Regions from separate parts of the Homo sapiens genome. Here region 2 is linked to region 1. The links come from fine-mapping of genetic effects on gene expression. A gene starts in region 1. The other region holds a variant in brackets. All regions are shown on one strand. Distances are from middle to middle. Region 1 holds the start of SPG7 (SPG7 matrix AAA peptidase subunit, paraplegin). Region 2 overlaps SPG7 (SPG7 matrix AAA peptidase subunit, paraplegin).

Region 1 (2,898 bases):
AGCGCCCGGCTAATTTTTCGTATTTTTAGTAGAGACGGGGTTTCGCCGTGTTAGCCAGGATGGTCTCGATCTCCTGACCTCGTGGTCCGCCCGCCTTGGCCTCCCAAAGTGCTGGGATGAAGGGCAGGGAGAGGGAGGGGGAGGGCACCGCGCCCGGCCCACCTGGTGTCTTTCAATCAGGGAAAGAAAAAATAGTGGAGGAGGAAACGGCAAGGTTGGATTCACTGCGAAGGCTGACTGTACAATAAGAAGCAAAAGGAAAAGCGGTTCAGTTGTGAAAATCAGTGTCAGCCCTGGGTGTAGGGGAAGGTCCTCTCCACAAACCAACAGAACACCTCCCCAGCCCCGAGCACCTCTGCCGAGGCACCCGGCCCACTGGAGGGCTGAGGGCGGATAACCACGATAACTGAAAACACTTTCCTGAGCGTCTCGGGGCTGAGGAAGAGGGAGGATTACACGCAGCCCACTGGCTTTGCAACCTCGTCTGTAGTGGTGGAGTGAGTGCAGGTCCAGAAACAAACCAGACCGGCCTTGAAATTCTGCCCTAACTTCAGAGCTGTAATCCTAGGCAGGTTACTTTTAATACTTCTGAATCTTTCTTTACATGTAAAATAGAGGTATTGTATTCGCTGCACAGGGTTGTGAATATTACATGGGTGTTCGACACGGAGCTAGGCACTCGGTGATGTTGGCTGTCGTCACTGGCATTCACTGTTACGAATTTGCGGAGTACAGAAAAGCATAAAAATAAATAGGTCACCCTCATCCTACCTCTGTGACAGACCATCTAGTCTTTGCTTTTCCTACTCAACAAGCTTTCCAGCTCTTGGCGTCAGCTCTAGACCTAAGGCGGACGGAGGAAGGGGTCGGGGTGGCGGAGGACCCCGCGCGCCTGGGAGCCCACGAGGGACCCTGCCCGGGCCCGGAGGGCGGACCCTGAAGAGAACAGAGCCTCTTCCTAAGCTTCCAGACGGCGCCTCCCCGCTTCCTACGATGGGCTCGCGCAGCGGCCGGGGCAGGACCGAGGCTCGAAGCGCCTCCGAGGTGAGCCAGTCCGAAGGCACAGGACGGAGCGCTCCGAAGTCAGAGGTGTGCGGGACGAGCTCTGCAGACGCCTGCCAGGCCGCGCCGCACTGCGCGCTCCCTCCCTCACGACCCTCCTCCTCCGGGGCTGCCCTCCCTGCGGCGGCTGCAACTTCAGTCCTCGTCCTCGGGCGGCTCAAGACGCAGGAAAACCGCCCCCTTCCTGCGCTCCTCACACCCGAAGGGGCCCTCCCGACCCGAGGCCTCCGGCGCCGCCCTCCTGAGCGCGGGCCTCTACTCGCAGGCGGGATTCCGGCCCGCACCATCCGCCCTCGCCTGTGACCGAACCCTGCGGGTGACGCAGGCTGCCCGGGCGTGAGGCCCCTCGGCGCGGGCGGAGCACGACCACGCAGCCACGACCCGGCCGGTTATTCACCCGCCAGGCCCTGGGAATACAAGGCCGGCTTCAAAAAAACCAGGGCACCCGCGACCTCCTCGCAGACGCGCGCCCCCATACCCGGGCCTCAGGCAGCCACGAGGTAGACGGGCTCAGGCTCGGGGGTGCGGCAAGCGGCACCCGGGCGCGGCGGGGCGCAGCTGTGGGGACCGCGCAGGCGCCACGTCAGACCCCGCCCACCCCGCCGCGCAGGCGCCGTGTAGCGCCCCGCGGATCACGCAGGCGCGGCTTTCAGGCCAACATGGCCGTGCTGCTGCTGCTGCTCCGTGCCCTCCGCCGGGGTCCAGGCCCGGGTCCTCGGCCGCTGTGGGGCCCAGGCCCGGCCTGGAGTCCAGGGTTCCCCGCCAGGCCCGGGAGGGGGCGGCCGTACATGGCCAGCAGGCCTCCGGGGGACCTCGCCGAGGCTGGAGGCCGAGCTCTGCAGGTAAATCCCCGCGGAGTCCGGGCCCCACCTCCCGCCCGGCTCTGCTCTGTAAGGCCCAGCCCGGCGGGGCGGGTCGGAGGCCGCCTGGCCCCTGCGGCGGGGGAGCCTGCGCCTGTGGGCCCGCGGATCCCCCAGCTGTGGACCTCGGCGCGGAGCGACTGTTGGGGCCCTGGATCGTGGGCGCTGGGCGGGCCGGGAAGAGGCAGGGCTGGGATCCGCGCAGTCCTCGGCGTGGACTTTCCCAACCCGTCTGTTGTGTGTGGATGTTCTCCGCCCGTCTTCCTCGCCTTTTAAAGTGGAATCCAGTAACGGTTTCCGGCGTAGCACTAATTTACAGTCCACGCCTGTGGATCGATTCCGTCACCAGGAATTCCAGCGCCTTCCAGTTAGGGTGGTTATTGCCGAGTAGGGGGCCCAGAACGTTTCTGTGTCCGCAAAATACCCTGTAGCTGCATTTTGCTGTTGTCATGTAGCTCGGCACGTTATTGATACAGTCATTGAGCACCCCCTGTAGTGCGGCCTTGTTTCAGGTTCTGCTAAGGATAGGATAGCATCTCCTCCCGAAAACCAGACCTTGTGTCCTTCAGCTTTTGGGCTGATGTTTTTTTCTCCTAGCCCTCGCCTAGGAGCTTAGCCCACACCTTTTAGGTTGTTGTTTTTTCGGTTATTTTTGAGACAGAGATCTCGCTCTGTCGCCCAGGCTGGAGTGCAATGGTCTTGGCTCACTGCAACCTCCGCCTCCCGGGTTCAAGCGATTCTCCTGCCTCAGCCTCCTGAGTAGCTGGGATTACGGGTGCGCGCCACCACACCCAGCTAATTTTTGTATTTTTAGTAGAGACGGGGTTTCACCATGTTGGCCAGGATGGTCTCCATCTCTTGACCTTGTGATCCGCCTGCCTCGGCCTCCCAAAGTGCTGGGATTACAGGGCGTGAGCCACCGCGCCCGGCCATAAAACATATTTAAATGGGAAAATGTTTATCTTGAAAGGAGAAC
Region 2 (2,898 bases), 35 kb after region 1:
GGGGGAGCACGTGCCCCGCAGGGTGGCCATCCTGACACATAGCCCGGTGGGGAGCACGTGCCCCGCAGGGTGGCTGGGCTCTGCTGAAGGCCGAGCTGTGCTTGAACCCGGCGCCGCCCCCTCTAGGAGCTCGCACTGCACCTCTTTGGCCTGGCTGCTGTTTTTCTTTGAGACCGGTGTTCCTATTACTTTTCCCATTTTTTTCACTGTTTATACAATCTTTCAGAATTCTGTATCCACAGCCCTGGCCTCTGCAAGGAAGGCGCTCCACGACACTGAGCAGTAAGCCTTGGCAGGCCTTCCAGACAGCTCTGGAGGGGCCAGCTTGGGTCCCAGTCCCCACCCTCCCCAGCCTCTTGTTCCTCGTGTCATAGTGAGACAAGGCACTTGTGCTTCTGCTGCCTGTTTTTGTTTCTGAGTTTATTTTAAAAGTCACCGTGATTTTAAGACACTGTCTTTGCCTTGGCGAGGTGATTCTCTTCTGTGATCTCCCTTGTAGAAATGTGACTGGGACTTAGCATCCCAGCTTATCACATTCTGACGTGTGGAACCAGGGAGAATGGTTGTGTCTTTCAAAGTTTCTTTGAAATTCGGGAGCGATTTGCTTGGGAGTGGGGTGTGTCTTGGACTGAGCTGCTGTCCAGACCTGGCGGCTACGGCTTAGTGAGGCTCAGGACAGTGGCCCTGGAGAAGCTGGTCAGGCCCCTCAGCCTCCTCAGAGCGTTCAAGGTCCTGTCCTAAGAACATGGGGTTGCTGGAGCCAGGGTCTCACTCCATTGCCCAGGCTGGAGTATAGGGGCATGATCATAGCTCACTGCAGCCTTCACCTCCTAGGCTCACATGGTCCTCCCACCTTGGCCTCCCAACGTGCTGGGATTATTAAGGGTTTCTTACATTAGTCACGGTAGATCCTGCTCTTACATTAGTCATGGTAGATCCTGTTCTTTTTTTTTTTTTTTTTTTTTTTTGAGACGGAGTCTTGCTCTGTCGCCCAGGCTGGAGTGCAGTGGCGTGATCTCGGCTCCCTGCAAGCTCCACCCTTCAGGTTCACGCCATTCTCCTGCTTCAGCCTCCGGAGTAGCTGGGACTACAGGCGCCCGCCACCACGCCCAGCTAATTTTCTGTATTTTTAGTAGAGATGGGGTTTCACTGTGTTAGCCAGGATGCTCTCCATCTGCTGACCTTGTGATCCGCCCTCCTCGGCCTCCCAAAGTGCTGGGATTACAGGCGTGAGCCACCGCGCCTGGCTATATCCTGTTCTTACATTAGTCACGGGTCCTGTTCTTACATTAGTCAAGGTAGGTCTTGTCGTATCTTTACTTTTAACACTGTTTATTGTGGACCTTTTCCTTTTTTTTTTTTTTTTTGAGAGTCTTGCTCTGTCGCCCAGGCTGGAGTACAGTGACACAATCTCGGTTCACTGTAACCTCTGCTTCCTGGTTCAAGCGATTCTCCTGCCTCAGTCTCCCGAGTAGCCAGGATTACAGGCATGCGCCACACCCAGCTAATTTTTGTATTTTAGTAGAAATGAGGTTTCACCCTTTTGGCCAGGATGGTCTAGAACTTCTGACCTCAGGTGATCCACCTGCCTCAGCCTCCCAAAGTGCTGGGATTACAGGCGTGAGCCACCGCATCTGGCCACCAGTGGATTCTTTTTTTTTTTTTTTTTTTTTCCTGACGGAGTCTTGCCCTGTAGCCCAGGCTGGAGTGCAGTGGTGTCATCTTGGCTCACTGCAACCTCCGCCTCCCAGGTTCAAGCGATTCTTCTGCTTTAACCT[C/G]CTGAGTAACTGGGATTACAGGTGCACGCCACCACACCCGGCTAATTTTTTGTATCTTTTGTGGGGTTTCACCATTTTGGCCAGTCTTCTCTTGGACTCCTGGCCTCGTGATCTGCCTGCCTCGGCCTCCCAAAGTTCTGGGACTACAGGCGTGAGCCACTGCACCTGGTGGACTGGATTCTTTTAAAGCAAACCCATAGTTTTGAATCTTATATGCTCTGAGTACGTTTCTTTAAATTCAGAGAAACACCACAGCATCATAACACCTGAACGTTCTTACGAGCATCCAGTCAGGTGTTCCCAGCAGCTTCATAAATCTCTTTTCGCAGTTGATTTATTCACATCAAGGGCCAGTCAAGGTTCACATACACCAGGGATCAGTGATCGTTTCTGGACTCACTTTTAAATTCTCCGATGACAAACGTCAAGCCTGAAACCCAGGGCCTAGGGCCAGACGTTGAAGATAAAATGTTTCCAAGTCACAGCCTAAAGCTGGGTGTTAGCTAAAATGTTACAAAGTCACAATAATGATGACAGGGCGGTGGGGGGTGGGGGGTGGCTGTTAGGACCGGCTCCCAGATGGCACCGTGAGGCAGGGAGAGGCTCCAGGATGCTGTAGGAGCTCCCGGAGGGCCTTGGACAGTTCTGCTGTTTGCACTTGTCAAAATAGGCAAATTCCTGTTCCTCCTGGTGATGCTGGCTGGGAGCGATGGGGGATCGCGGCTCCTAGTTCAGAAGGACCGGGCTGTTCCTTTCTCTCTGGGCCTTAGGGGGGTCTCTCTCCCTCCTGTGTCCTGAAGGGGAACCTGCAGGGGAAATCTGTTGTGTCAGGACCCCTACCCTCAGAGCCACTGTCTGCTCTGTCCCCTCAGGAATGGGTACCACAGACCATGTCATCGTCCTGGCGTCCACGAACCGAGCTGACATTTTGGACGGTGCTCTGATGAGGCCAGGCCGACTGGACCGGCACGTCTTCATTGATCTCCCCACGCTGCAGGTCAGAGCCAGGATCCCAGCCTCTCCCACTCCACCTGGGCCGCCCCCACTCGCTCTGAGTGGTCTGGCCTCTCCTCTAAGACACTTCTTGGTGTGAAGCCTGTCACAGCCCCACAGGTGCTGG

Evidence for each region. PIP is the estimated chance that this variant, and not a neighbour inherited with it, causes the effect. A credible set is the group of variants that fine-mapping cannot tell apart.
Region 2: its variant is the best candidate, but not a certain one, in a credible set for the expression of SPG7 in whole blood (TOPMed, PIP 0.55).

The regions. Positions count from the first base shown.
Region 1 is chr16:89,506,697-89,509,594 of GRCh38, forward strand. It overlaps SPG7 (SPG7 matrix AAA peptidase subunit, paraplegin), which reads left to right and starts at 1,707. Exons shown (of 17, transcript NM_003119.4): 1 at 1,707-1,904. The coding sequence starts at 1,722. LOC101927863 (a long non-coding RNA gene) reads right to left here and starts at 1,624. Exons shown (of 5, transcript NR_188547.1): 1 at 1,541-1,624. RefSeq lists silencers at 1,021-1,090, 1,211-1,420, 1,491-2,050, 2,081-2,200.
Region 2 is chr16:89,541,998-89,544,895 of GRCh38, forward strand. SPG7 (SPG7 matrix AAA peptidase subunit, paraplegin) reads left to right here. Exons shown (of 17, transcript NM_003119.4): 10 at 2,651-2,775. Among named protein-coding and RNA genes, the nearest start is that of RPL13, 17 kb to the right of the region's middle. The variant C/G (reference allele first, on the strand shown) is at 1,779.